Linked DNA regions of Homo sapiens. The protein of the gene in region 1 purifies or fractionates together with the protein of each later gene. This does not show direct contact. Each region holds a gene or a part of one and is shown on either strand. Other genes may lie near its edges. The genes, in order: FAM167A, METTL13, CCDC122, CDC42BPG, NDE1, UTRN and CDC42BPA.

What was found.
Region 2: the proteins of FAM167A (region 1) and METTL13 purify together in Homo sapiens (co-immunoprecipitation; 2 studies listed by BioGRID and IntAct, with this or other methods). This does not show direct contact.
Region 3: the proteins of FAM167A (region 1) and CCDC122 purify together in Homo sapiens (affinity purification with mass spectrometry; 2 studies listed by BioGRID and IntAct, with this or other methods). This does not show direct contact.
Region 4: the proteins of FAM167A (region 1) and CDC42BPG purify together in Homo sapiens (co-immunoprecipitation; 3 studies listed by BioGRID and IntAct, with this or other methods). This does not show direct contact.
Region 5: the proteins of FAM167A (region 1) and NDE1 purify together in Homo sapiens (affinity purification with mass spectrometry; 2 studies listed by BioGRID and IntAct, with this or other methods). This does not show direct contact.
Region 6: the proteins of FAM167A (region 1) and UTRN purify together in Homo sapiens (co-immunoprecipitation; 3 studies listed by BioGRID and IntAct, with this or other methods). This does not show direct contact.
Region 7: the proteins of FAM167A (region 1) and CDC42BPA purify together in Homo sapiens (co-immunoprecipitation; 3 studies listed by BioGRID and IntAct, with this or other methods). This does not show direct contact.

The regions. Positions count from the first base shown.
Region 1 is NC_000008.11:11,459,409-11,463,753, forward strand, and holds part of FAM167A (protein FAM167A), read right to left. Parts: intron 1-4,345.
Region 2 is NC_000001.11:171,784,122-171,788,466, reverse strand, and holds part of METTL13 (eEF1A lysine and N-terminal methyltransferase), read right to left. Parts: coding exon 3,968-4,345; intron 2,589-3,967; coding exon 2,389-2,588; intron 733-2,388; coding exon 537-732; intron 1-536. UniProt on the Homo sapiens protein: Dual methyltransferase that catalyzes methylation of elongation factor 1-alpha (EEF1A1 and EEF1A2) at two different positions, and is therefore involved in the regulation of mRNA translation.
Region 3 is NC_000013.11:43,855,289-43,859,633, forward strand, and holds part of CCDC122 (coiled-coil domain-containing protein 122), read right to left. Parts: intron 3,610-4,345; coding exon 3,493-3,609; coding exon of another isoform or gene 3,445-3,492; exon of another isoform or gene 2,863-3,444; intron 1-2,862.
Region 4 is NC_000011.10:64,830,561-64,834,905, forward strand, and holds part of CDC42BPG (serine/threonine-protein kinase MRCK gamma), read right to left. Parts: coding exon 4,289-4,345; intron 4,018-4,288; coding exon 3,869-4,017; intron 3,795-3,868; coding exon 3,706-3,794; intron 3,418-3,705; coding exon 3,365-3,417; intron 3,277-3,364; coding exon 3,178-3,276; intron 3,100-3,177; coding exon 3,040-3,099; intron 2,831-3,039; coding exon of another isoform or gene 2,777-2,830; coding exon 2,671-2,776; intron 2,400-2,670; coding exon 2,266-2,399; intron 2,184-2,265; coding exon 2,044-2,183; intron 1,950-2,043; coding exon 1,868-1,949; intron 1,568-1,867; exon of another isoform or gene 1,451-1,567; intron 1,162-1,450; coding exon 945-1,161; intron 1-944. UniProt on the Homo sapiens protein: May act as a downstream effector of CDC42 in cytoskeletal reorganization. Contributes to the actomyosin contractility required for cell invasion, through the regulation of MYPT1 and thus MLC2 phosphorylation.
Region 5 is NC_000016.10:15,666,792-15,671,136, reverse strand, and holds part of NDE1 (nuclear distribution protein nudE homolog 1), read right to left. Parts: intron 3,852-4,345; coding exon 3,698-3,851; intron 1-3,697. UniProt on the Homo sapiens protein: Required for centrosome duplication and formation and function of the mitotic spindle. Essential for the development of the cerebral cortex.
Region 6 is NC_000006.12:144,287,910-144,292,254, reverse strand, and holds part of UTRN (utrophin), read right to left. Parts: exon of another isoform or gene 4,301-4,345; intron 519-4,300; 5' UTR 427-518; coding exon 348-426; intron 1-347.
Region 7 is NC_000001.11:227,028,054-227,032,398, forward strand, and holds part of CDC42BPA (serine/threonine-protein kinase MRCK alpha), read right to left. Parts: intron 3,462-4,345; coding exon 3,245-3,461; intron 2,418-3,244; coding exon 2,355-2,417; intron 1,198-2,354; coding exon 604-1,197; intron 1-603. UniProt on the Homo sapiens protein: Serine/threonine-protein kinase which is an important downstream effector of CDC42 and plays a role in the regulation of cytoskeleton reorganization and cell migration. Regulates actin cytoskeletal reorganization via phosphorylation of PPP1R12C and MYL9/MLC2.

The DNA.
Region 1 (4,345 bases):
CTAGAAACCTCAGGGGCAAATAACACTGAAATATTCCCAAGGCAATGCTTTGTTTTTCTGTAAAATTGTTCTGGGCAGAAGAGGAAGAAGAGACCGAGCGCCTCGGTCTGCAGTGCCAAGCACGTGGGTGCTGTGAGTACAGCTGCTGTGGCAGGAGGGCCTCTTTCCGGGGCTGGGGTCTTAGTCCTTGGGCAGGGCTGGGCAGTGAGGGGACCTCAGCCTAAGGGAAGTTCTGCCATTAACAACCTGTGACGCTGGACAAGTCACACGACTCTTTGGAATTCAACTGGAACAGGGATTCATTTCATTTCTTTTCTTTTTTTGAGACAGAGTTTTGCTCTTCTCACCCAGGCTGGAATGCAGCGGCACGACCTCGGCTTACTGCAAACTCTGCTTCCCAAGGTTCAAGTGATTCTCCTGCCTCAGCCTCCTGAGTAGCTGGGATTACAGGCACCCACCACCACACCCACCACCACACCTGGCTAATTTTTGTATTTTTAGTAGAGACGGGGTTTCACCATATTGGCCAGGCTGGTCTTGAACTCCTGACATCAGGTGATCTGCCTGCCTCGGCCTCCCAAAGTGCTGCGATTACAGGCGTGAGCCACCGCACCAGGCCAGGGACTCATTTCATTTGTCTGCTTGTTTTGGTTGATGGAGGTGGCTCCTGGGCCAGTCCCAGGGACAGCTGTGATGCTGGGGCCACCAGTGTGAGAGGATGGGTACATGGCATGAAACCCACTACAGGGCTCTGGGAGGGGCAGGCGCCCTAGTGGGCTGCACCCGTAGATTGCCCTAACACTCCGGCTTTAGGCAGCCCTCGGTGCCTCCTGCCTGGGGTCCCAGCATTGCCGATGGGAGCGGGAGAAACATTTTGGACAGAGCCAGCCTGGTGTGGAAGAGAAAAGAGTTCCCGACCTGGGAGTCAGCTACTGGGGTCCCATCCCACCCTAAGCCATTGGTTTGGGTGTGATGACCTCCGTGCCCTCTTCCACCCTGACACATGCAGAGTCAGCCCACAGCAGCAGGTAGTGGGACCACCATGTCATGGAGCCACCCCCACGGGGCCAGGGAGTAGAGGCGCCGACTCGCCCACGTTTCCCTGGGGACTGTCTCCCAGCAGAGCCCGGTTTGCAGTGTCCTATGCTAATGGTTGCACTTCAGCTCAGGATAGAAGCTTCCGTTTCCACACCTGGTGCAACAAGAGCAACCACATGCATTTTTTAATCACACTGCATTTGCAAATTTTTTTCCCCACACACACAATGACCTGGGCTAGGGAGGCCTTCCTAAGAATTATACCACAGAGAACTGCACACCAGAGCCATCGAAAGAACTGCCCCAGGTCCCACAGCTCCATGAGTGGCGCTGGCTGCGCTTGCACCCAAGTCTTCTGACTCCGAGTTGAACCCTGCATCTATTGTCTAGGAAACAGGGAAACCTTGCTTGTCTCGCTGGGACATTATGAGAAAAGAATCTATAAAAATACTTAAGACCTTTGCAAATTCAAAGTGCTGGGTCCATGCTGAATAATTGATGGGCTCAGGCTGCTTCAAGCTGACGCACAGTCCTCCTGCAGGAAGGCTGGGAGCGCGGAAACCTTCCTTTTCATTTAGCCCGGTGAAAGAGGCTGCTGAGAAAATTGCCAAGAAATACTGCTTCCCTGTTGGTCAGAAAGAGGCCCTGGCTCCTGGGAGCCACAGATCTAATTTATGGGCTCCCTGCAAGGCGGGGAGAAAGCCCAGGGCCACTGCAGGGAGAGGGGCTCTTGGGACGCCCAGTCGCTGGTGTGTCCCTTCCAAGGCTGCGGGGCTCTGGGAAAGGGCGGCCCTGGCAGGCAGGAAGAGGTGCCTGAGAATCTGACAGTTTGGAGGAGATGGGGAGGGGGAAAGTAGCCATGGGAAAAAAAGAGAAGGATGTGGTTTTCCTCCCGGGAAACGCTCGACAAGGCAGGGATGCCCAGACGGGCTAAGGCAGCCTGCTGCCGCCCCGCCAACCGCCACATGAGACCCAGGGCTTTTCTGGCCAAAGGCCATGGTGGCAGTGGGGATTAGAGGGCAGAAAGTAGACACAGAGTGGCCTTTAAAGCAATCTGCAGAGATGAAAGCAGAATGCAGCGCAGGCCGGTACCCTGGCTATACAAACAGGAAACACTTCCCAGCTGGCTGAAACTCAGACACCAGGGCACAGCTAAGGACACGGGGGATGTGTGCCCTCCCCTGTGGCTTCAGCCCACCAGAGTGGCTCCTAACCAGCTGGCATTGGCCTCAGCCTCCAAACAAGGCAGATCTAGGACTATTTGAATCCACAGGATAATTGGCTCCAAGTTGAAAATAGGCAGAATCAACAAACGCCAGCTCAAGGGGGGATTTGTCCAGATGATCTGATTTCTATTTTACTCTGCAGCACAAGTTCCAAAGCCCAGAGTTTCTAAAAGGCTTCGTAAGGCCTTTCACGGTGTTCCCTGTGCTTATGCCAACTGGGCACCTCCACGTTCGGGCTGGGGGTCCTGACCTCTCAGGGGCTAGAAGGGTCCTTAGGGTTTCCTGGTGTTTGGACGCAGTGGGGTCCCAGTGTGGCCTCAGCCTGGCTTGGACTGCCCAGTGCAGCCTGTAAGTGGCTGCAGGTGCAGCGCTGTGCCTGCACTGGGGTTTGGCAGGGACATATGGCCTGAGTGCCCGCAGGCAGGGCAGAAAATGGGATGTGTGACTTTGCTTCCCTGCCGTGTCAGCTTGCGCTGGAGGTACTTGGCTGCTGAAGCCTCCCGGGTTCACACCTCGCAGAGGAAAGGAATCAGGAGCAGGAGAAAGGGATGGAGCAAGTTAGAACAGGGCAGAGCCGGGTGTCGGGGGACGTGGGTTGGTTGACAGCCAGCCTGCCACTTACTAGTTCTATGACCTTGATCAACAGATTCAACCCTCCTAGGCCTAGGTTCCACATCCATGAAACAGGATTGTAATGGATCGTACCTCACAGTCTTGGAAGGACCAAATGAGATCAAGTTTACGTGAATTTTTAGTTACACCTCTAATACGACTGTCACCTCCTGCTCTTGACTGTGCTTGGCTGTCACTCTCCTTGGTCCATCGAATTGGGAAATGGCTCCTGCACTGCGAAAGTTAACTGAAGCGTGCAGAACAGCATTTTACTGTGAGCTCAGGACTCTACTGCATCAGCAACCTCGCCAGACTGCACGCTCCCTGAGGGCACGGCCTTCACCTTCTGCTTCCTTGGTAGGGTGGTGCATTTGGATCCTAAACTCCTTTGCAGAGATGGTGGGCTGTTCTGTGTGGTTTCATTATGCCAGCTACAACCTAGATGTATTCAAATCAGCAACGCCCACCCCTACCCCACTCGCAGCCACTGCCTCGAAGCAGAAAGCATCTGCTCCAGAGGCAGCAGGGACAGGCACTTCAGCGTCTTTATCTCTGGTCAGCATTGGGCATTTGATGATTAGCAAAGTAAATATTAGAAATGCGTTCTCATTGGTAAAGACAGAGGTATTCAAGATGTGTGGGTTGGCTAAATGAATTCAGAGACACTCTTGACTCAGGAAAGAGCAGGTAAAAGAATCCATGAGAGCTCCAGGGAGGTGTGGTCAGGGCAGCAGAGAGCAGATTGCTGGGCTTCACCGAGCCCACAGGACAGGCTGTATGGACTCCGCTGGACTTGTTTCAGGTAAATATTTGTCCAAAAATGTGTACGTCTGGCAGAATTTGCTCTGAGGCTGCTTTCATTCAAACTTGATAATGAGGCTGGCTTCACCTTCCTCCAAGTTTTCAGTGGCTGCTATCAAACAAATAAACAAAATAGCAGCAGCCACACAACCAAATTTGGGAAGTGCCTTTGTGACTGGAGGGACTTAGGTCAGTTCACGCCTGGCATGGGACTTCCAGGGCGAAGTGCGTGGAGCTGATCACAAGACTAGGGAGGTAGTGTCACTTTCAACTTGATGGTGGACAGTGGGGGCCAGGTCCCTAAGGCAAAGACCCTCATCCAGAACCTTCCTGGGTGGCCACCACCCTAAGCATGAGCCTGCTGACCTAGGGGCTGCTGTGCCCAGCCAGCTCGCAGAGGCTCCGCTGGCTTCCTGGAATGAGGAAACACTGCCCAGCCTTCGAGAAGGCCTGGAACTGTAGCCAGTGCACAAGTCACTGCCTAGGCTCTTTCCATACCTGCCACTGGACCTGGAAAATGGGGTCTGACCTGGGCCTGTCCCTCTAGGGATGCCCAAGGGACAAGCCCTGCGAGGGAGCCCTTGGGCATCTACTGCCAGCTTCCACCTTTGGATCAGGATGCCCTGGAGGGAACTTCCGGCCACACTGAAGAAATGGGGGCTTGGTCC
Region 2 (4,345 bases), on another chromosome or scaffold:
TTCCTCAGTTACACTAGCCACATTCCAAACGCTCAGCACTACATATGGCTAGTCGCGACCACATTAGAAACTCAGGAACTAAACATCTCCTTCATCACAGGCAGTTTTACTGAACAGTGGTATACTAGAAGGCCTCTAAGTCACCCGCCAATCCAAAACCCTCTGAAACAGGTGAGTCACACTATGGAGGGCAGGGCTCACCTGCAACTTCCATAGTTCTGGCTCACCTCACAGAGGCCTATTGAAACAATACACAGATGTATATGGAGCACCTGCAAAACAGATGCCTTTAAACCGAAGACATTAATGTGATTATCACTGTATTTGGTTTCACTACTCACGTCCCCTATCACTTCAGAGCCAGGCTCTGCTCAAGAACAGAATGTACTCTGCTTATAGCTATTCACACCCTAAGAGTCCAGATGGTTAAGAACCTACAGACACCCAGGTCCATCCTACATCTCGGCCAAGCTCCCAAGAAATCTAGTCCATGCCACGGCCACTTGGGTCCCACCACTGTGCCTATGACACCTCACCTTTGTGAGACACATCCTTCAGCAACCTGGCTTCGGACTGCACCACATTCCTGTTGCTGAGGAAGATCAGTCGACGGAAGTATCGCTTGTCATCCCCTTGCACATCCTCAATGACATAGTCACCGCTCAAGGGGCTGCAGTCTTGGTGCTGAACGGTCCGGACCCCAATGTCCCCACCCACAGACAGAAAGGGGACCTGAAGGTACAACCAGAGATGTGGTCAAAACAGCAGCTCATTTAAGAAATAAGAGAAATTATAACCCCTTCCCTTTTGTGTGTATATATCCCCATACCACGGTTCTAGACAACAACTACTCCACAGATTTGCCATTCTATTAAAGTACTTTTCTGGAGCCTTTGAACTGATCTCAAAGGTTTAATTCATCTTTTGAAAATCAACTGGACACATAAAGATCTCCCAAACAACTAGTGAGATGCAGCTGATTCTCCCCAAGTTCTTTTAGGGGTTTTTCTCATCAGTAACCCCTAAAAGAACTCTCAATAGTCCAGGATAACAAAAGCTAGAGGGAACCCTCAGGAAGGGGCTGTGATTATGAGAAGGAATCTACACAAGAATAAAGATAACAAAATCCATGGGAGAAACAACCACTCCAAATCTAGAGAGATATTCCTTTCCCCTGATTATTCTCATCTATTTTTCCCCCACTTTTCTGAACCTTAGGAGAAAAATATACTTTCCCCCTAAACTTTCCCACTCCTTCCCCCTATCTTTATTTCTTTTTTTAAAGACCTATAAGACTAGTTAATAATCACCAATATCTCCTGACCCTGCAGACTCAGGCACTGGTGAGAGGCCACAAATGAAGCTCCTCAGAGGATCTGGGCTTCCTTGAAATAGGGGTCATCAACCCCAAAGTTGGCCAGGAAGAATCAAACTTACATTCATCTGTAAACACGAGTCAGCCTAGTGGGCAAAACCACAGGCCAGGAACCCAGGAGCCTGGGTTCTTTTTTTTCAGATCTGTTACTATTTGCACCAAGCCTCTAGATACCTTTGCTTTCCCACCTATCAAGAAGGATCAAAGCTTGGGCAACATAGGGAGACCCTGTCTCTACAAAAAATGTAAAAAAAAAACTAGCCAGGTATGGTGGCTTGCACCTATAGTCCCAGCTACTACCAAAGGCTGAGGTGGGAGGATGGTTTGAACCCAGGAGGTTGAGGCTGAGGCTGCAGTGAGCCGTGATCACACCACTGAACTCCAGTCCAGCCTGGGCAACAGAGCAAGACCCTATCTCAAAAAAGAAAAAAAAGGATCAACTCCTCATCATGAAGTTCTTTTAGTAAAATCACTTGTTCGTTACCCATGGTGACCAGGATAGCACAAGACAGTTGGTGTTAACTGATAATACCATATCACCACTTAGGCAAAAACCTTCGGTTTCCTTCCCAGTAAAACACCTGACCAGCAATGTGAATACCTGGATAACTGTGCTGAGCTGTTTTGGCCCTCTTCCATTTATACCCTCAGATAATGATAGTTCTAAGAAGCAAAATGACCAAGAAAGTCCAGTGTGGAAGGAGAAATCCACAGTCAGAGCAACTCAAATTAGGAAGAACTGAAGCCCGCAATGAGTAGAGCATTTCCATCCTGCCATGTCTATGGACTCTGAGAGGCTCCCCCAGACACAGACGCTACTGTGCTCACTTTCCTCTCATTGCCTGGGGCAAAGGACAGTTTCCCTGCCATTTAACCCTTAGCTGCTGATACCCCTCCAGGATTAGATGAAGAGTCACAGACTCTAGTCCTAGCTCCTGCCAAGGCTCCCTCTGCCTCCCTGGCTGCTAACATGACTTCAGAGACCCATGAAAGCCGTACGAAAGCTTTGTTACCTGCTGCTGGGTGGGCATCCCAGCTGGGGCCAGCTCCATGACTCTAGCCGACAGCTCAGCTTGGATGTGGTCCATGCTTTCATACTGCTGACCTCGGTGAAGGGCCACTGTAATCAACCTCCTGAAGCCAGCACTGGCCGCCAGCTGTTTCCGGCCCTCATCCATGCCAAAGAGCCACTCGGTCTCCCGGCCCTGAGGGACTAGAAAAAAGAACTTGGTTACAGGGAGTCCTGGAAAGTGATCAAGCCCACAACCAATATGGCCCAAACGGCAGGGAGCCAGTCCCTGTCCAAGACCAGCATCTTCCCCAACTGTGACCCACTGAGGAGCTAACAATTCTCTAGTTCACAACATCTAGGGCAAAGCAGCCCATCAGACATAAGGCAGGACCAAGGGTGGAGAAGAAGTGTGGGCATGTCCGTAGGGGAAGGAGGCAGACACCTACCACAAGAAAAACAGCAGTAATGCCAACACAAATAAGCCATGCCAGGCATGACTCCAAGCTGTTGACAAATATATATTAATGGAATCCTCCAACAGTCCAAGATGCAGGTAGTAGTATTATTCCCATTTTTACATATGAGGAAACTGAGAAACAGAAGTTACACTATTTGCCCAACTTCGCACAATAAGTAAATGGTGAAGCTGGGACTCAAACCCAGGCAGTCTAGCCCCAGACTCTACCCACGCTTGTATTCACTGCACTATTTATTTCCACACATGGACAGACAGAATTATAGAATACTTGAAAAACTAGCTCAGTCACCAGGAAACAAATTACCGTAACACCAAGACCATAAACACTTTGCATTTGTCTACAATGTTCCACTTTTGAAAGCACTTCCTCCTACTATCTTTTTTATCCTTATTAAGATAAATCTGATATAACTTACTGCTTTCAGTAATAATGGCTAACATTTACACAGCACTTCCAAGGCCAGGTACCATTTCTAAGAGCTTTTATACTTCTCACAACTACACCAGAGTTACAATCCCATCAAGGCAGAGAAAGAAAAGTAACCTGTCTAATGTCACACCATCAGGAAATGACTGAGCCAAAACTGAAACCCAAACAGTCTGGTTCCAGAGCTCACTTTTTTAGCTGCTACCCTATGCTGCCTCTCCAAATTTTGCAGAGAAGCACAGCAACTTCCCCAGGTCCTGCAGCTCACAGGCTACAGCTGGGACTAGAACCTATGTCTTAGACTTGCTAGTCCAGCATTACTTCCATTACTCCATGCTACAAAGTAACTAGCATCTCTATATCATATGTGACCTCCTAAATTTATCTCTATTCTCTCTCTTCCCTACCAACCCCATTCTCACACTTCATCAAGCCTTTGCAATGGCAGATGAAAAGGAATAGGTCTCAACTCCAAGTAGGTTGCTAGAGAGCTATTACTCTCCTTTCATCATGCCTTGGGTAGTCTAATCCTCTGGAAGTACAAACCCCTGCAAGACAAAAAACAGTCCAGAATCCCACCAAAGCCCCAGCCCAGCCTCAGCCCCAGCCCCAGCCCAAGCCCCAGCCCCTGTAAGCCAGCCCCTCCAGGGAAGAGAGGGAGCAATCCCAACTCACTGATGAAAATCGCAAAATGATTGTCCCGCGATGGTTTCACAGTGGGGCTGTCCACCACGTGGAGGGTGTAGCGTGGCTCCCCCGTGTCCCCATCGCACAAGTCCAGAGACACACTCCCCAGCCTGGCCTTGCGGCGCAGCTGGCTGCACAGCCAGGCATACTGCTGTCGCTCCTGCACCGCCTCGGCCAGCCGCTCGGCACTCTCCAGCCGCACAGGCTTGCGCTGCTCCTGAGCACACAGCTCAAAGATCTGAAGGGCAGAGCCAGGGACTGGCCTGAACTTGGTCATGATGAAGGCAAAGACAGGCAAGGAGAACTGAGGCTCTGCTTCCAACACCTGGTCCTGGCTGTTGGCCACTTGGTGCACCCTCACCATCC
Region 3 (4,345 bases), on another chromosome or scaffold:
AAAATCAATATGCAAAAATCACTAGCACTCCTATATAACACCAATCAAACTGAGTCAAATCCCATTCACAGTTGCCACACACACACACACACACACACACACACACCCCTAAGAACACAGCCAACCAGGAAGGTAAAAGATCTCTACAAGTAGAACTATAAAATACTGCTCAAATAAATTAGAGATGACATAAACAAATGGAAAAACATTCCATGCTCATGGATAGGAAGAATCAGTATCATTAAAATGGCCATACTATCCAAAGCAATGTATAGATTTGATGCTATTCCTTTTAAACTACCAAAAAAAAGTTCAGCATCATAAATCATTAGGGAAATGTAAATCAAAACCACAAGGAGATACCATCATCACTAGTATCAAAAAGTAAAAAAATAAAACAAAACAAACAAACAAACAAAAAACATGCTGACAAGGTTGCAGAGAAAAAGAACACTTATTATACACTGTTGGTGGGAGTGTAAATTAGTTCAACCATTGTGGAAGACAGTGTGGCAATTCCTCAGACTTAAAAACAGAATCCCATTCAACCCAGCAATCCCATTACTGATTATATACCCAAAGGAATATAAATCATTCTATCATAAAGACACATACACGTGTAAGTGCATTGCAGCAATATTCACAATAGCAAAGACATGGAATCAACCTAAATGCCCATCAGTGGTAGTCTGGATAAAGAAAATATGGTACATATACACCATGAAATACTATGCAGCCATAAAAAGAATGAGATTATGTCCTTTGCAGGAACATGAATGGAGCTGGAGGCCACTATCCTAAGTGAATTAATGCAGAAACAGAAAACCAAATACTGGATGTTCTCACTTATAAGTGGGAGCTAAATGATGAGAACTTATGGACACATAGAGGGAAACAACACACACTGGAGGGTGAGAGGAGGGAAAGGATCAGGAAAAATAACTAATGGGTACTAGGCTTAATACCTGGCTATTGAAATAATCTGTACAACAAACTATGACAGAAATTTACCTATATAACAAACCTGCATACATACCCCTGAACTTAAAAGTTAAATTAAGGCTGGGCGCGGTGGCTCACGCCTGTAATCCCAACACTTTGGGAGGCCGAGGCGGGTGGATCATGAGGTCAGGAGATCAAGACCATCCTGGCTAACATGGTGAAACCCCGTCTCTACTAAAAATGCAAAAAATTAGCTGGGTGTGGTGGCAGGCGCCTGTAGTCCCAGCTACTCCGGAGGCTGAGGCAGGAGAATGGCGTGAACCTGGGAGGCAGAGCTTGCAGTGAGCCGAGATTGCACTACTGCACTCTAGCCTGGGCGATGGGGCGAGACTCTGTCTCAAAAAAAAAAAAAAGAAAAGAAAAAATCTCTCAATAATTTGTTTTCATGTATAAAACTTTGTTGCAGGATATCTGACAAAAATCGGTGAACTGTATGGTATGTGAATTTTATCTTAGTAAAGCTGTTTATAAAAATCAGAATAGTGGCTATTTGATAAAAAGGGTAGAAGAGAACTTTCTGGACATGCTGGGAAAGTTCTATATCTTGATCTAGGTAATGCCAACATAAATATATGTACATGTTAGTCTAAATAAATCAAGCCATCCATTTATAATTTGTGTACTTACTCTTATGACAATTATACCTCAATAAAATATGTTACTGTAAAAAAATTAAAAGGTAATTTCACATTTCTTTCCAAAGTGCTTTTAGCAATTTACATTCACAAGAATACTGTATTAAAATTCCCACGCTCAACATCTCCCAACTGTAATACCGATAATCAGATGGGCTAAACATGGAACTTTGCTGTGGTTTTAATTATCAGTCTCTTATTGCTAATGAGGATGGTCATATTTTTCTTTATTTCTGATATTCATGGTTCAGAAAAATGGTCTTTTTATACCATTTGCCCAATGTTTCACTGATTTGACATTTTCTTATCTCTTTCTTATCACATACATGTGTTATAATAATCTAGAATGGAGTCTTGTTCTTTCTCTTGTGATGGTATATTCCCATAATCTGGAAATTTATGGCATAGTCAAAACTAAAGATATTTAACCACAGAATTTATGGAGTGTTTTTCTCTTTTAAAATAAATGCTTTTCTGACACAAATTTTTAAGTTTTTATCCTATGTTGTATTCAATACTTAGAAGTGTGTGTGTGTGTGTGTGTGTGTGTGTGTGTGCACGTGTGTATTATGAGGTAGGAATCCAGTTTTATTTCAACATTTTTCTTTATTTTTCCATAGAGGTAATCTATTTTGTTTTTACCACTCAAGGATGCATAATTTCTGGATTCTTTTTTTCATTAATAATTTTTTTCTGGCCGGGTGTGGTGGCTCACGCCTGTAATCCCAGCACTTTGGGAGGCCGAGGCAGGCGGATCACCTGAGGTCAGGAGTTTGAGACCAGCCTGGCCAACATGGTGAAACCCCATCTCTACTAAAAATACAAAAATTAGCTGGGCATTGTGGTACGTGCCTGTAATCCCAGTTATCTGGGAGGCTGAGATGGGAAAATCGCTGGAACCCGGGAGGCCGAGGCGGCAGTGAGCTGAGATCGCACCACTGTACTCCAGTCTGGGTGACAGAGCAAGACTCCGTCTCAAAAATAAAGAAAAAATAATAATAATAATATTTTTTTCTACTCTTTTACCACTGATACACTGTCTTACTATTTATTGTTTTATAATGAACCTTAATGTCTACAAGGGCAAAAAGAATCGTTATTTAGATTCCTAGTAAACTAAAAGGTAAAATCGTGATATTTTTTAATAGCGAATATGTAAAGATGAGGATTTTTATCTTTAATTTCCTCAGATGCTTTGTATTGTGTCAAATTAGTCAAAAACAAGTTGAAACATGCATATTTTTATTTTCCAAATTAATGTATTCAGGCAAAAATTATTTGCCCTTAATAGCATATTATTTTACATTTCTGTTCACCATTCATCCAAACAATAATGACAATAGAAGTCCACAGGCAGCACCACAACACATTATGAATTTACTCTGACTTTCAATTTTGCATATTTTCAGTTTGTTTTTTTAACTTGACTCTTGATAATTGCGAATATGAAGTCAGAGAGGTTTGGAAAGACGATGCTTTCCATTGTGTTTTATTCTATTTTGAGGAGTCTTTGATATCTAAGAATGGGCATCCTCTTTGACTACATAGCTGCTTTCTAGCCATTAATTGGGTATCATGTTCTTAGTGGAATGAGAAAAACCTGGAAGAACCCTCGCCCAGATTTAAATAGGAGTGAATGCTTGCATTGTTTGAACACATTCACATATTTGAACATCTTTGAATGAGGGGGTTATCTCTAGTTATCTATTAATGATTTGTATTTACTAAATTTTATAGTTCTTTCTTGTTCTTCAACTGTTTTGAGTATTGAGAGTAAACTATGGAAATATGAATATAGTGTTAAGTTTTAAAAATGGTCCCATAAAACATTGAAATCTAGATAATTAAGACTTACCTCTATTTCTTTTCTTAATTTTTCATGTGTCTTTTTTTCTTCCTCAAGAAAACAAGTTTTTTCAATGATAGATTCTTTTACAGTTATAATTTTATCCTTTAAGTTTGTAATGTCTTCCTGTATGTTGACAACATTTGAAATATAGAAGTCAAAAAAGGATGATCAATATAAATCCAATTTTTCAGTGTTTCTATAATTTAAGAAAACTAGCCAAATCAAAATTTAGTTTTGATAAATAGCATTAGAATATTACTTCTATACGTATACAAAAATAAAGAACTGTTACTCAAAGAAACCTTACATTTGACACAGAACTAAAAACCAAATGAAAATAAGACAAAAAGGAAAGTGGTAGTTATGGTGGCAACTGCCGAACAACAGTGTAAAAGACACTTTTTAATTCTCTAGCAAGAAATGATCAATATTTTAAGTTTGTGTCTTCTATCGTCTTCAAAGAACAGTAAGAGAAATAGTAAGATGCTTAAGGTTCAGTTATTAATTTATATTGCTTGCATAACACCATTAAGTGTACTAAATTGATTTGAATTGGTCTGGATCCATTGGCATAGAAGCTAAGTCTTTAACATTTTTGTGAATTACATTTTCTACAACAAATGGATTAATTGTTCACTGTGATTTTATTTGACCATGTAGTTTTATAAATCTACAGGGGATTTGTGGATGTTTCCTTTATGCATTTGAGCATCTAGGGTCGTTGTTATATAACACATGTACTTATTCCAAGTTTTTTTCAATTATGAAAATAGTTTCTGAAGGTAATAGGACAGCTATGGGCATTTTATTAACTTCACAATAAATTTATCATTTAATGTATGTACTTGCAAAAAAGGAG
Region 4 (4,345 bases), on another chromosome or scaffold:
CGAGGAAGTGATGCAGGGGAGGGTTCAGCAGAGCCCCTTGCTCAATAAATCCCCTCCCCTCTGGTTCCCGACTGCTCCAGGGACCCGCACAACCTCTCCTGTGTCTCCCGCCCTGAGAGCCGGGCCTGGCTCAGGGCCTCAGCTGCTGGGGAACGCCAAGGAGCTCTGTTTCATGCCTCTTTCCCAGCCTTAGTTACAGAAGAGCCCTGCTGAGCCCCAGGTTCAAGGCTGAGCACAAGTGAAGCTCTTCGCAGCTCCACCCAGGAGATGTTATGAGGCTCTGGGTGGTTCTACAGCAGCTCCCCCAGTCCCCCAGCTTGTAGTGAGACAGCCAGGACTGAACCTTCGTTTCTCTCTTTCTAAAGCCTTTGTTCCAGCTGGGCACGGTGGCCCATGCCTATAATTCCAGCACTTTGGGAGGCCAAGGTGGGTGGATCACCTGAGGTCAGGAGTTCGAGACCAGCCTGGCCAACATGCTGAAACCCCGTCTCTACTAAAAATACAAAAAATAGCCAGGCGAGGTGGTGCATGCCTGCAATCCCAGCTACTCTGGAGGCTGAGACAGGAGAATCGCTTGAATCTGGGAGGCGGAGGTTGCAGTGAGCTGAGATTGCACTGCTGAGCTCCAGCCTGGGCGACCGAGCGAGACTCTGTCTCAAAAAAAGAAAAAGAAAAAAAAAAAGCCTTTGTTCCTTCCACTTGCTTGAGATTCTTTTGGAAAAAGCAGAAACTGAGGCACAGCGAAATGGAGTGGGGATAAGCCAGGCCCCCTACCTGGGGGCCCAGCCATGCACACAGGAGGCTGGAGCACATACGTGGTGCAAGGCAGTCTGTGTCTCGTGGCTGCAGGGAATGGGCAGTAGCAGTGGCCCTTGGGACTATTCCTAGACACCAGCACTCCCGCAGGCCTGAACTGCTTCCTCCAGTCCCCTCCACCAGCTCACCGAGGATGGCAGCGCAGAGCGTGTGAGGCAGCAGCGGCAGCCCGTTGTCGTAAGCCTCCTTGAGTGTGTACACGGGCCGGGGTCTTGGCCGCGCGTCCAGCAGCAGCCGCTGCAGCTCACCCAGCACCTGCAGCCAGCGTTCCCGCTCCCCCTCGCTCTCTGCCAGCAGCAGCACAGTGCACGTGGTGGGCGGCACTGCCAGCTGGGAGGTTGTCACCTGTGGGCAAGGACCCCAGCTGGAGGGCCGTGGACCAGAGCCATCTGTCCTCCCTCCCTTCCTGCCTCCAGCAGCCGCTGTGCCCCGGGGGCCTAGCGTGCACTGTCAGCAGCAGGGAGTAGGCCAGACAGGCAAACAGACAACTCCAGAGCCATGCGACCAGCGCCATAATGGGGCAAGGACGGGCCTAGTGGGAACACAGAGGGACCCAAACCGGGGCCGGGAAGTGAAGGATGACTTCCCAGGAGACCAGACATTTCTGCTGAAGCCTGAGGGACGAGTAACTAACCAGGAGTAGTCAAGGTAGGTGAGGGGCTGGGCTCCAGTGCAGGGCCGGCAATTTCGTGCAAAGACAGATGTGAAGGACTGAGAATGTGGTGCACACAGGCACAGGGCGCCTTCAGAACTGGAGAGAGCAAGGTGTGACCAGAGCAGAGACAGGTGCCAAGGGAGAGGGCTGGGAGGCCTGCAGGGTCAGAGCCTTGGGGCCTCAAGGGCTAGGTCAGGAGCACCCCGAGCCCCGCAGACGATGGGAAGCCACAGCAGATCCTAAACGAGGTGAGACCGGGCCAGGTGCTCACGTGGAAAGCGTGCTGTGGTTGTGGGCTGGCCCAAGAGGGCAGTATGAAGTGGGGGGACAGTGGCCAGAGCTGGGACAGCATGGGGAGGTGGATGGTGGCTGCTCCATCTCATCCCAGGCACTCACCCTAAAGATGCGTGGCAGGTCCCTGGATTGGGCATGGATAACATCAGAGGCCAGGACAGGGGTAGCCGAGAACTGGGGGTCCCTGGGAGGTTCACAGAACAGGTCAGAAATCTCCCTGTCCCTGACTGCCCCCCTTACCACTAGTCCCTTGCCCCATGCCACTGCCCGGCACCTACCTCAGATCTAGGACCTGCAGGAGGGCCCCACTGGGCGGGCTGAGCCTCAGGTCAGGGGCGTCAAACAGCAGCAGGCGTGAGTCACTCAGGGCAGCAAACACGCGCTGCCAGCCCCGCCGGACACCTGAGGGCCGCGGCACCTGGCGGAAAGGCAAGCATGGGAGGGCTGCAGGGACCCTCAGCCCCCCATGCCCATCTTCCCCTCCCTCGGCCCCCACTCACCGACAGAAAGCCCTCATAGGCAGTGCCTGTGCCTGTTTCGGGGTGTACTCCCAGGGCTGTGCGGAGGAGGTCAGGGGGCACGGGGCAGGGTGGGGCCTGTGGGGCACAGGTTGTGTGACAAAAGTAGCCGCAGGCTGTGGGGAAAGTGGAGAAGGTGGATGAGGTGAGGCTGGGAGGGGACAGCCCCAAACCAGGACGGGGGCATGTCCAGAGCCAGCTTCCCTGAAGCCACGGTGGCACCCGAACTGTCCCCAATTCCTCATCAAGTGAGAAAAGGAACAAAGCTGAGCAGGAGGAAATTTGACCAGCAGGTGCCAGTGACCCTGGGATGGGAGAAACAGCCTGGGTATGCCAGGGCCACACACCTGGGACCGTGGCTGGAGCATAGTGGGTGGGGACTCTCACCATCACAACCCAGGCCCTGGCGGCCCAGGCCCAGCATCAGCGAGGTGCAGCGGAGACACTTGGTCGGGGATGGGAAGCTCCGGGGGCGCAGCGTGTGTGAGCCGGGCTGGGGAGGGGGACAGCCATTACCCAAGGCCTCCCAGGGCCCCATGCCCCATCCCTGAGGGGTCAGGAAAGACAAGGGGCTGAGCCAGGCAACAGTGACCTCCGAGTCCCAGCCAATCTATGGCGGCAGGCAAGCTCATCGCCACCACCTCCACCCCAATTGTGCCTGCTAGCCACGATGCACGTGGAGTGTCCCCACAGTGCCCATTCAGCCTGGCAGAACTGCTTGGTGCCCCCACCCTGCTTGCCCCTCTGGGCACTGACCTTAGCAGGAAGACCTTCTGTAGAGGCTGTGTTGGCAGTGGGTGCTCTGGGGAACACAGCCTGCAGGAGGGCGGGGGAGCAGGTGAGACGGGCAAGGGCGGGGCCCAGGCCCCCTACGATGGACCCACCTGTCCTCACCCCCATGCGCAGGCTGCGTCGGCCCTCCGGCCTCAGATCTGGCTCTCCTCCATGCCTTGTGGCCTCTCCTGAGATGCCAGGGTCCTTGGCAGAATCCTTCTGGGGGTGGGAGAGAGAGGAGCAAAGTCAAGGTCCCTGTGCCTCTCCCAGAACTTCTCCCCAACAAGCCCCTTGGCCTGGTCCTTACCTCTGAGCTCCGGAAGGACAGGAAGGGAATCAGGGAGTTTGAGGGCTTGGTGTCTGCAAAGAAAGGGTGGGTCACTGGCCTGGGGTCCCTGGCCTGAGGAACTAGGGTCCAGGAGGGGCCTCAGTTCCCACCTCAGTAAAATGGGAAATGACCACAGGGTGGGGCAGGGCTGGGCACAGCAGGCACTCCAGAAGTGCTGGTCACAGATGATGGAGTAAGCGGCAGAGTCCAGGAACAGACTCCTGTCTCCACCACCCTGCCAGGCCATCGTGGAGCCCCCTTGGCAAGTGGGAGGCCGCGGGGGAGCCTGGCTCCGGGGCAAGCAGTTGGCAGCCACTCACCCACTGGCCCTCGGGCCCGCAGCTCCTCCCGCAGCATGGCGAGCTCCTGTTGCAGGGCCTGGCTCTGCTTCTCGGCCTCCTGCAGACGGCTGGGGAGAATGGCAAGGGCTCGCCACTGGCCTCTGTGCGGGCCCTGGCCCCCAGTGCCTGCCCCTAGCCTCACCGCTCAGCCTGCAGCTGGGCCTCCTGCACCTGTGTCAGCCGCTCCTGCAGGCCCTGCTTGGCGCGGATCTCGGCCTCCAGCGCTGACTGCAGCTCCAGCCTGGCCGAGGCCTCCATCTTCTGCAGTCGCCGCGCCTTCCACTGGTGGTCCTGGTGGCCACGGAGCACCCGTATAAGATGCTTTCTAGGCCTGGCTGCCTCAGGGACCCCCTGCTACCAGAGCATCCTGCTACCCATGCCACCCAGCCAGGCTCAAAGCTCCAGCTCAGCCAATGACCCACTGTGAGCTCAGGGAAATCACTATCTCTCATGAGCTTGGTGTCCCCACCTCCAGTAGTGACCTTCAGTAGCAGGGATGCTGAGCTCACGGAAGGTCAGTGACTTGCCCAAGCCAGCCCCCAGGGGCATCTCTGGGGCTCACCAGTGGCCGGGCAGGGAGCGTCTGGGTGCCTACGTTCCTCAAGGACTCCAGCTCCTC
Region 5 (4,345 bases), on another chromosome or scaffold:
ATTATTGGTAGAGCCTAGGTGGTGGTGGATACACAGGTATTCACTGGAAATTCTTTCAGCCTTATATGCTGGAAAACGTTCATGGGGAAATGCTGAACAAAAACCCCTGAAGGCGATCAAACAACACCTATGGGGCAGATGGATCTGCAGACGGCCAGCTGCACTCTGTGGTCTCCAACAGAAAGCTTCAGCTTCAATGACCACCTTCAACGTGTCTGGGACCTCTCCTCCGCCCTGCCCCAAACCCCCAATCCATTTGTTGGTCCCACACCCTTTCCTATACATTAGTAAAGCTGGGCTTGCCAAGGTCCACCCGACACCCATTCTTGTCCACGTCTGTGATGGGTACAGATCAACTCTCCTTCAGCCCCATCTCCCCAAGCACCAAGTGTCAGCAACACATACACCTACAAACACCCTCCACACAGCCTCCCTCAACCCATGCAGTCCTTTCTTTTTCTTTCTTTTTTTTTTTTTTTGAGACAGAGTTTCGCTCTTGTTGCCCAAGCTAGAGTGCAATGGTGCAATCTCGGCTCACTGCAACCTCCGCCTCCCGGGTTCAAGTGATTCTCCTGCCTCAGCCTCCCAAGTAGCTGGGATTACAGGCACATACAACAACACCCAGCTAATTTTGTAGTTTTAGTAGAGACAGGGTTTTGTCATGTTGGTGAGGCTGGTCTCAAACTCCCAACCTCAGGTGATCTGCCCACCTCGGCCTCCTGAAGTGCTGGGATAACAGGCATGAGCCACCGCACCCAGCCAGTCCTTTTTCTCTTGAAAGGCCCCCACATCAGAGTTCTGTGACTGAGCTTCACGTCCCCAACTGCTTCATGGCATTAGGTTTGTCTTCCCAAAGAAGGCAACCAGCACTTCCCCTTTCACCGTCCATCATACCTAGCCCTGGGCACACACAGTTTTGACTCTTCCATGAAGCAGCTCATCAAAATGTACATTGGGAGTTTAATGAGAAAAAGAAAACCACACAGACATGCCAGGGCCCCACCCAGACTTACTGAGAAATGGAATCTCAGAGCAAGGCGGGGAGATGGGGATGGGGAGAGAGGGTTCAGGCCTGTCGGATGTTTATGAAGCTGGCCTAGTGATGCTGGCTGGCAGCTAAGGCTGAGAGCCAGTCTCTGGGGCACGGTGTTGACTTAGTGATCCCTTGCTGAGCCCTACAGCATGTACAGAAGGGATGGTTTTTACCTTGCAGAGCACTGGGTCTCCAGATACCTGGCTATGTCTAGAGGTGCTTTTGGTTTTCACCACCTTGGAGGTGCGGGGAATGCTACTGGCATCTAGAGGGTGGAGGCCAGGGATGCTGCCAAACATCCCACAGTGTGGTCAGGCGGGGTGACTCATGCTTGTAATCCCAGCACTTTGGGAGGCTGAGGCGGGCGGATCACCTGAGCTCAGGAGTTCGAGACCAGCCTGGCCAACATGGTGAAACCTCGTCCTTGCTAAAAATACAAAAATTAGCCGGGCGTGGTGGCTCACACCTGTAATCCCAGCACTTTGGGAGGCTAAGGCGGGTAGATCACACTGTCAAGAGATCAAGACCATCCTGGAAAACATGGTGAAACCCCATCTCTACTAAAAATACAAAAATTAGCCAGGCATGGCGGTGTGTGCCTGTAATCTCAGCTACTCAGGAGGCTGAGGCAGGAGAATCACTTGAACCCAGGAGGTGGAGGTTGCAGTGAGCCGGGATTACGCCACTGCACTCCAGCCTGGCAACAGAGTGAGACTGCGTCTCAAAAAAAAAAAAAAAAAAAATTAGCCAGGCGTGGTGGAGGGTGCCTGTAATCCCAGCTACTCAAGAGGCTGAGGCGGGACAATCACTTGAACCTGGGAGGCGGAGGTTGCAGTGAGGTGAGATTGTGCCACTGCACTCCAGCCTGGGCAACAGAGCAAGACTCCATCTCAAAAAAAAAACAGGCTGGGCACAGTGGCTCACGCCTGTATTCCCAGCACTTTGGGAGGCTGAGGCAGGCGGATCCTGAGGTCAGGAGATCAAGACCATCCTAGCTAACACGGTGAAACCCCGTTTCTACTAAAAATACAAAAAATTTAGCCAGGCGTGGTGGCAGGCGCCTGTAGTCCTAGCTACTCGGGAGGCTGAGGCAGGAGAATGGTGTGAACCTGGGAGGCGGAGCTTGCAGTGAGCCGAGATCGCGCTACTGCACTCCAGCCTGGGCAACAGAGCAAGACTCCATCTCAAAAATACAAAACAAACAAACAAAAAACCCACAAAGCAAACCTCAGTCCCTCCCAACGGAGGATGATCCGGGCTCCAATGTCAACAGCAGCCAGGTCGAGAAACCTGCTCTGAACTGGCAGAGTGCAACACACCTTTTGGTAATGAAGGAAATGGTCTGCAGCCCCTCTGTCCACTAAGGAAACTCACTGGCCACACGTGGCTCCTAAGCACTTGAAATGTGGCTACTGTGACTGAGGAATTAAGTTTTTATTTTAATTCATTAAATTTCAACAGCCAAATGTAGCTAAGGGCTACAATATTGGACCTGATGATATTACTCTAGCAACACCTCCATACCCTAAAAATGTCTCCCTGGCCAGGTGGTGGCTCATGCCTATAATCCCAGCAATTTGGGAGGCCAAGGCAGGAGGACTGCTCGCGTCCAGGAGTTCAAGACCAGCCTGGGCAACACAGCGAAACCCTGTCTCTATAAAAAATACAAAAACTAACCAGGCATGGTGCCGCATGCCTGTAGTCTCAGCTACTCCCGAGGTTCAGGTGGAAGGACTTTGGTTTTTTTTGAGACGGAGTCTCGCTCTGTTGCCAGGCTGGAGTGCAGTGGCACAATCTCAGCTCACTACAGCCTCCAACCATCAAGTGATTCTCCTGCCTCAGCCTCCCAAGTAAGCTGGGACTATAGGCGTGTACCACCACGCCCAGCTAATATTTGTAATTTTAGTAGAGACAGGGTTTCATCATGTTGGCCAGGATGGTCTCAATCTCTTGACCTCGTGATCTGCCCACCTCAGCCTCCCAAAGTGCTGGGATTACAGGTATGCACCACCTCGCCCGGCCCAGGTGAGAGGACTGCTTAAACCTGAGACGTCCAGGGTGCAGTGAGCTGTAATCCAGCCACTGTACTCCAGTCTGGGCAACAGAGCAAGACCCTGTTTCAAAAAAAAAAAAAAGTCTCCCTGCCATGTGCCCTATAAAATCAGTGTACACAACCAAGAAAGTCCACGGGAACATGTGTGTGACTTGCTTCTCAAAGCTCCACCCATCATGGATCCCGAGGTCAGGAGTTCGAGACCAGCCTGGCCAACATAAAACCCCGTCTCTACTACAAATACAAAAAAAATTAGCCAGGCGTGGTAGCAGGCGCCTATAATCCCAGCTACTCAGGAGGCTGAGGCAGGAGAATTACTTGAACCTGGGAGGTGGAGGTTGCAGTGAGCCAAGATCGCGCCACTGCCCTCCAGCCTGGGCAACAAGAGTGAAACTCCATCTCAAAAAAAAAAAAAAAACAAAACAAAAAGCACCACCCACTAGAGGCACAAAGAGTTCAAAGATCACGTCTGCCGCACAGGCCCTTCCAGAGATGAGCATGGGCCTGGGGTCTGGAGTCCCTCATTGCAGGGTTCCTTCTTCCAGCCAAGCATGCCATGCCTGTGTTGGACGCCTGTCTACACCTGAGCACACTTCCTCTCAGCCCCTCACCTTGATGGTTTCCAGCTCCATGCGAAGGCGGTTATTTTCGGACAGGAGGTCTCTGTTCCTGGTTTCAATTTGTTGCAGCTGCGTCTCCAATTCAGCTTCATATTCTCGGCTTCCCTCCTGGAATTCTCGGAGTTCCTCTTGCGTATTTTCTGCCCTACAGCAAAATTGTTAATCATCACGTAGTAATATTTTTGAAGACAGAGTCTCGCTCTATCACCCAGGCTGCAATGCAGTGCTGCAATCTCGTCTCACTGCAACCTCTGCTTTCCAGGTTCAAGCGATTCTCCTGCCTCAGTCTCCCGAGTAGCTGGGACTACAGGCATGCGGCACCACACCCAGCTAATTTTTGTATTTTTAGTAGTGACGGGGTTTCACCATGTTGGCCAGGCTGGTCTCGATCTCCTGACTGGAGGTGATCTGCCTGCCTCGGCCTCTCAAAGTGCTGGGATTACAGGCGTTAGCCATTGTACCTGGCCAAATTCAAGGAATATTTTAAAAATATCAAGCCTGAATTACCTTTAAGTCAAACTAGAATAAAGAAAGTAGGAAGGGCTGGGTACAGTGGCTCATTAAGAATTACTTGAGGCCAGGAGTTCCAGACCAGCCAGGGCAACATAGTAAGACCTCATCTCTACAGAAATGTGTTTA
Region 6 (4,345 bases), on another chromosome or scaffold:
GGCACTTCCTACATTAAGCATATAATCCCTTCAATTTCCAGAAAATAGAAAGAGAAATGTTCGGTCGTATTTTATTTTAATGGAGTAGTCTTCCAAATGAACAACCTTTAGCTACAAGCAGCAGTTTCACTAAGCACAAAATTGGGTTGAGAAAGGATAGGACACTCAGAGATATTATACCTTTTACATATACCTTTTACAAAATTATAGTCATTTGTCAGAATTCAGTTTCTTAAAAGAACTTCACCTCCAAGAAGTTCTTGCAAGAACAATGCAAATCAATCCAAGAAACATAGGTTTTCTAAATACATAAAAATCCATAGCTTTCTTGAGCTTCCTTTACCTACCAGATCTGGACTTAATGATATCACTGAATTCGTTCTGCCCATTGTCAGGACTGGCTTCATGTTCTCCATACTTGGCCATCTTGCCAGAGTTTCAAGATAATCCAAAAACTTTACCAAGTCCTCTTTCTAAGGCTTTCAACTTCCTACGATGGTTCAGCTTGACATCAATACCTAAAAGGAAAAGGGAAAGTACTGACTTGAAAAAATGTATTTATATATTTTATATAGTTATTCGTAGTAACTATTCATTCACCAAATATTTATTGAGTGCCTACCACGTGTAAAGCACCAAGCCAGGCAATGGTGTTATGACTATGAACAAGAGACATAGCCTCTGCCATTACGGCGCTTATGCACACTAAGCAATTAATTACATAATGAATTATTTCATTACAATACTGACAGACTACAAATCATACAAAGGAGAAGCACAGAGTATTAAGAGCACACAGCAGAGGAGTCTGACCTGCCCTGGGCAATTAGAGAAGGCTTTCTTGAAGAGACATTTGAGCCAAGCCTTTAAAGATGACAAGAATTTAATTAGCCAAAAAGGGAAACAGAAAGAGAAAAGGTAAGAGCTTCCTATGTGAAGTGGCAGAAAGAATCATGGAGCAGTCAAAGAATGGAGCACAAGCCAGTGTTTCTGGAAAGAAGACAGCCAAGAGACAAGTGTACCTGTTGAACCAGGTGAAGAAGCTGGGCAGGACCAGGGATAGGACCATGGAGAACAGGTCAAGGGTTTGTGTCTTTATCTGAAGAGCAATGGGGAGCCAGTAGATGGTTCGAAGGAGGGAACCAACATGGTCAAATTGGCCTTTTTAAAAGATCGTCAAGGGACGGGCACGGTGGCTCATGCCTGTAATCCCAGCACTTTGGGAGGCCGAGGCAGGTGGATCACGAGGTCAGGAGTTCGAGACCAGCCTGGCCAGCACAGTGAAACCCTGTCTCTACTAAAAATACAAAAAAAAAAAAAAAATTAGCCAGGCATGGTGGTGTGCACCTGTAATCCCAGCTACTCAGGAGGCTAATGCAGGAGAATTGCTTGAACCTGGGAGGTGGAAGTTGCAGTGAGCTGAGATCACGCCACTGCACTCCACCCTGGGCAACGAGAGTGAGACTCCATCTCAAAAAAAAAAAAAAAAAAAAAAAAAAAAAGACGATTGTGGCTTGTAGGTAGACCACAGTAATATGTGGGGAACCAGTGAAGACTATGGCAGAATATAGCAAAATGCAAATTAAGGAACCTAGCTCATGGGTATATGAATGCTGAATGAAAATTTCTTGCAACTCTTCTGTATGTCTGAGAATTTTTTCATAGTAATATGTTGGGGAAAAATTCCTAATCTTAACCAAGTGATCAAAATTCACATAACCAATCATGGGGCATCATGCAATTGAATGGAAAATCACCACATCATCTACACAATATCCTTGCCAAGATGTTGAACGTGAATCTTCTCATGAGCAGACAAATCTAGACTGTGGCTAGTTTTCAAAAGAAATGGCCTGGTTTCTTCAAAACTGTCAGCGTCTTGAAAACCAAAATTACCTGGGAGAGGGGGAGCTTTGTGAATTAAAGGAGACTAAATAGACATGACAATGAAATGTAATCTTTGATTGAATTCAGAATTTTAAAATAAAACATTTGAGGATCATTTGAAAAATCTGAATTTGGACTATGTATTAGACAATATTATTGTATCAATGTTAAATTTCTTTAACATTAATTATGGTATTGTTGCAGGAGAATGTCTTTGATTGTAAGAGACATGTGGTGAAATATTTAGCAATGAAGTGTGATGGTATCTTCAACTTAAGTTCAAACAGAATAGCATATATCTGTCTATACTGATATAGGTATATTTAGGTTGATATATGTATGTAGATGTATATATGCATACACACAGACAGACAGAAAAATGCAGTAAGTATTGTAAAATAAGTGGGAAAACTAGGCCGGGCAAGGTGGCTCACGCCTGTAATCCCAGCACTTTGGGAAGCCAAGGCAGGTGCATCACCTGAGTTCAGGAGTTCGAGACCAGCCTGGCCAACATGGTGAAACCCCATCTCTACTTAAAAAAAAATACAAAAATTAGCTGGGTGTGGTGGCAGGTGCCTGTAATCCCAGCTACTTGGGAGGCTGAGGCAGGAGAATCACTTGAATCCAGGAGGCGGTGGTTACAGTGAGCCGAAATTGTGCTATTACTCTCCAGCCTGGGTGACAAGGGCAAAATTCCATCTCAAAAAAAATAAAGTAAGTGGGAAAACTTGTTAAAGGGCATCTGGGTCTAGGCGAGGTGGCTCACACCTGTAATCCCAGTACTTTGGGAAGCTTAAGCGAGAGGATTACTTGAGCCCAGAAGTTTGAGATCAGCCTAGGCAACATGGTGAGACCTTGTCTCTACTCCATGTAAATAAAAATTTTAAATAATAAAATAAAATAAAATAAAAAGGACATCTGGGTGTTTATTGTGCTATTCTTTCTATTGTAATATTATATGCAGGAAACAAGTGTGGTCTAAACAAGAGTAGATAGAAAGAAATGGGTGAATATGTGGGATATTTAGATATCAAAGAAAGTCAATAGGATTTGGGAATTGATTGGATATGAGAGATTCATATCCAATGTGCAAAATGTGCAAAATGACTCCCCAATTTTGGCTTAGGCAATTAGGTGAAGTGTGAGTCATTGAGCTGGGCAACACTGAGGATAGCAGGCTGGGAGAAAGGAATCATCAATGTGATTTGGATTTGCAGAGCTTGAAATGCCTCTGAGTTATATAAGCGGAGATGACAAAAAGAGAGTTGGGCCCAGCATGGTGGCTCATGCCTGTAATCCCAGCTCTTTGGGAGGCTGAGGCAGGCAGATCACTTGAGGTCCAGAGTTCAAGACCAACCTGGCTAACACTTGAGGTCAAGAGTTTGAGACCAGCCTGGCCAACATGGCGAAACCCTGTCTCTACTAAAAATATAAAAATTAGCCAGGCATGGTGGCAAACACCTGTAATCCCAGCTACTCAGGAGGCTGAGGCAGGGGAATTGATTGAACTCAGGAGGTAAAGGTTGCAGTGGGCCAAGATCGCTGCCACTGCACTCCAGCCTTGACGACCGAGTGGGTGAGACTCCATCTCAAAAAAAAAAAAAAAAAAAAGAGAGAGAGAGAGAGTTGGATATAAAGGATTGGATCATCAATCTGACAGATTTTATGAGAGTCTAAAAAACTTTTTTCATTTTTTATAGGCTCTACTACTGCTAAAAATTTATGGATTATTATATGATTACATTCTTTCATTCAAGTACATAACTATAAAGGATTTGCTAAATTCTTAAGTGTATTTTATTATATTCAAGAATCAAAAACTTTGTTCAGAAGAATGTCTATAAAAGTTTATCATGGAAAATTAAGTTTGCCCAGGGAAAAATTCTCTTTCCTGGAAAGAACTACAGTGTATCACTTTGGAGCAGTAAGTCTAATGCTTTTCTTCACTATTGGTCTTAGCCAAGATCTCCACTTCTATGCTACCCAAAGCCTTTATTCACCCATAAAAGAGAAAAGTCAACTGTTTACACACTACTTTATTCCATTTGCCCATTATCAGTAACACTTCTTCACTATAATGTTTCACTTGCCACTCTCCTCAAGGTGATTTTTCAAATTTTTCTCTTCTTGATAATGAAAATCCCTTACAGGTTGCAAAGATACAGCAGAAAAGGTGATCAGAGTACAGAGGAAAATGGGGAGAAAGAAGAATAACAGAAGGCTATTTAAATAGTGATAGCCACTGAGGTTACTTGCCATTAATGGCCAGAGGAATTTGAGTACACTTAAGGCAAAGGATGACTCCTTCTAATTGCCAAATGCAGAATCTTTGGTTCTCAGGAGACAGAATCAAAGTTTCACCACGAACAATGCATCCCAGTGTGACCCTCCGTCTTCCACACCTATAAAATGGAGGGAACACCATCTTCACAGAAGGCTAGGTGAGAAACTGAGAATC
Region 7 (4,345 bases), on another chromosome or scaffold:
AGGCTGCAGTGGGCTGTGACGATACCACTGTACTCTATCCTGGGTGACAGAGCAAGACTCCATCTCTCAAAAAAAAAAAAAAGTATTCAATAATTTATTATGTCTTAATATTTCTTGAAGGGGTAAAATAAGCAATTATAAATATCTACCCATCTAGATAAAAGTGGAAAACTGAAAAAACACCTCTTATAGATGTTACATTATACCTTTACATACCTGATTAAATAACTCACTTAGTAACTACTTCTCCAGAATAAGTTCTGTGAAACACTGATGCTTACAAGCACCATATTTTGGGGGACCATGAGATAACAATTCTGGGTTATTTCAAAATATGATGTGGGGTAAAAAATCCATCTTAGTGAAATATTCCACAGAAAGATGTTTTGTTTAAATTACGTGCATGCTAATGCTGGCCCTGTTTGCCCAGGCCTAACTACATATGGTTTTTACATCAACAACATAATCAATACTGAGGAAAAGCATTAAGAATGACTTTTTTAAAAAACTGTTATCAACAATGACAACATTTGGGAGACGAAGTAGAAGGGAAAAGGAAGAAGAGATATAAAGATAAGACAGCCGTAAGAAAGAGAATCTTACAACAAGAGGAAGGATTTGCTGGCCACATCAATTCCTGTTGTCTAGATCTTCGGCCCTGGCAGTCAGTGTATATCCCAATGCTGTTAAAACACAGCAGATATTCTTTACTGGAGATCTCAACTGCGCAGATAGCATCCATTGGTTGATGTGCAATAAATGATAGTGTATGGTCATTTGAATGGAGCATACTGTATGGATTTCCTTCTCCATTCAAGGGGTATCTTAGAAATCCTGACTGGAATCCCACACAGAGTTGTTCACTGAAGATTGCCATCCACTGGACATTATATGGGACTTGAATTTCTTTAAATTTTCTGTGACGGGTCTTGCTCTGAAATAGTTCATAACAGAGGACCTGCCTTTTCATAGCCACACACAGGCATGTGAGAGCTCCATGGCGCACCTTTCCAGAAGTTACGGTTTGACACCCTTTAGTTTCTGACAGCTTGTAAAAATCGGTCTCTCGCCCATCCAATGCTGACATAGGAAAAAGTCGTACATGACGATTTCGTCCTGAGATCACAGCAACAAGCTGATCATTTGGAATGAGTTCAATCTGATGAATCTTCTTATTGTCACCAACTCTAATAATTTCTAAACACAGAAAGAATAATAAATCAAAATATAGTTTTATTGATTAATCATATCCCAATTATACTCAAAAGGATGTAAGTCAACTTACAGATGCACATACGGAAGAATAAGACATCAGAAGTCACAGGAAAAAAAGATTATCCAACCCATCATAAGATAATTTAACTCACCTATAGTACGTATTAAATTTGAGTCCTGAGATTTCTGGCAGCCAAGGCAAACCCCAAAGGATTCTTGTGTAAAAGTATGCCAAATCTTCAAGGAAACTTTTCTACTGGCACTAAATTCTAGGGAACGTCACCATAGGATTCCCATTTTTAAAAACAGAGAACTTATTTTTCAGAAGTTTTTATATGGCTAACAATGCATTGTTTTCCCATGATCTAAGTTGACATAAAGATAAAACTTAGAATACTGTATTTATGAATACCAAGTTATATTGGTTTCTCTTTATTTCACCCAGCATTTAGTTTTTCCCTAGAAGAAAAACCTCCAAACAAACACATTTTAATAGCTGTTGCCTCTTCTGGTACTAATAGAACAATGTGAAAATCAAGTTGTATATATTTTTTTTCATGTTCCATCTTTAGAAATGCAATCTGGGCTGGGCGCAGTGGCTCATGCTTATAATCTCAGCACTTTGGGAGGCCAAGGCGGGTGGATCACCTGAGGTTGGGAGTTCGAGACCAACCTGGCCAACATGGAGAAACCTCATCTCTACTAAAAATACAAAATTAGCCGGGCGTGGTGGTGCATGCCTGTAATCCCAGCTACTGGGAGGCTGAGGCAGGAGAATCTCTTGAACCCAGGAGGCGGAGGCTGCAATGAGCCGAGTTCGTGCCACTGCACTCCAGCCTGGGCAGCAAGAGTGAAACTCTGTCTCCAAAAAAAAAAAAAGAAATGCAATCTGAGTTCGTACAGAACTGTTAAATAAAATGATACAAGAAAGACAATACATATTTGAAGTTTTAAACCTCAGGGGGATTATAGAAATTTAAAAATAATCTTTTAATTTATAAACGTCAAATTAGGTCTGGAAAATTTTAGTCGCAGGATAAATAAGAGCAAATCCTGCTCTTTGTAGAATTTAGAATCTACAGTTTAAATTTTTTTAACACGATTTAAAATTACTCCAAAAAAAAAAAGTTTTCTCTTACCATCTTTGGTGACATGTACAACAAATAACCCTTCTTCGTTTCCCAAAGCAATTCTTTCATGATCTATGTAAGACATGAATGTGAAAGATTTTTATTAGGAAAAAAACCATGTAATGCTAATAAACCAGATGATAAGAACATTTGGTGCAAAAAATGGAAATAAAATGAATTACAATAACAGTTTACACTATTTCCTTTCAGATTATACTGGTAAATCTCTCATGTCTTCTAAAATAGAACAATTATTAAAGAATAATCCATATCAATACTTACAAAAAGAAGTAAATGTTTAATAAATGATGAAACAAAATGAAAAACCTAAGTTGTTCTACACTTATTGTTTTGGGAGGTAAAAATTGTGAATGGCATTTGAACCATACTCATTGAACTTTTCAGTATTTATGGAAAGTAACAAAAGAGTTAGATGCATACACAGGAATACAGCAAAAATTTAAACCTCCAGACACAGAAACTGCCATTTGTTAAGGGGATTTCTTTCTTATGCAGGGCACTCTGTGTTATGTATTCCATCTTATTTAAACTTCCCAATAACCTCAGCAAGGTAATTACCATCTGTATTTTATATATTAAACTCTAAGAAACTAACTTGTTCTAAATCACACAAGCAGAAAATAGATTAGTAGGCTAATGCTTAGCACTGTTGTTTTTTCAGGAAAAAAAAGGCACTTTGAAAGTGTATTTATACTCCTGTTTACTGAAAAACAAAGATCTGATATAGGTCTCATTCATTCAGTAAACATGTACTGAGCATTTATGATATGATGCACAGTATGTTGGACACTGGGGATTCCTAGATGAAAGCCAATCCCTGTTCTCAAGGTAGATTAGTAAACAATGATAATAATATGATAAATGTTATAAATTCATACCTATGATTGCGGCTGCCTGGGTTGTTTTAATGAGGGGTAGAGTGCTGTCATAAGCCTCTTTGGGAACATAGACTGAGCGGTCTCTGAATTTGTTTTTCTTCAAAATCTTGTGCAATTCACTCAGCACTCCCACCCACTTATTCTTCTCATTCTCAGTGTCTGCTAGCATCAGGATTGAACATTTGTTATTAGATGCTGAGAGCTGGGAAGCTGTGACCTAGAACAATTTAATCAATATTCATGATATTAGAAAACAGACACCCTTTATGCTAGTTTCATGATTATGTTAGTTTGCTTAGCACTCACCAATAAAATAAGCATTCATTAAATGATACCATTACTGGAGTTCAGCTATTCCTAATCAGAATAACTACCTTTAGCACTAGAATACATGACAAAGCAAAGGTGGCAGACACCATTTGAAATGTTAGTATCATTTTCATTTTCCTTCTGTAAAAGTGCCAGAACACTATCACTAAAGAGGCATTAAATATATAACAACAACAACAACAACTGACATTTATTGAGTAAATACTGAGCACCAGGTAGATCTAAGCACTTTACAAGTATTAACTCATTTAACTCTGTTAACATCGTCATGATTTAGGATGTACTGTCATTATATCCTTATTTTATATATGAAAAAAATGGTGATGCAAAGAAATTAAATCATTTCTCCAAGGACATACAACTACAAGTCTGGGATCTTGTGCCCATGCTCTTAAGCGCCACACCATACTGACTTGTGACTTGTTTTAAGGTCAGAAGTGCTCAGAAATATATTCTCTGTTACTTCACAACAATAACTCGCATTATCATTAAGATTTGACCATTTAAATTAATATTTAAATGAAGGTTTATCATTATACAAACAACACTATCAGAGCAGTTTTAAATTTTACCTATATGAATTCCTTATCATAAGTAAAGAATTCCTTATTAAGTAGCAGTGACAATAAACTCACACTATGAAAATCAGTTATAGATAAGTGGGCCTCTGTAGGCTCCCTTGGTGGCTGGGAGGAAAATAAATAGTTGTCAGTCTGGGAACTAAGAGACTAAGTATAATCTTTGCCTGACCTTCCTTAGATACAAGATTCA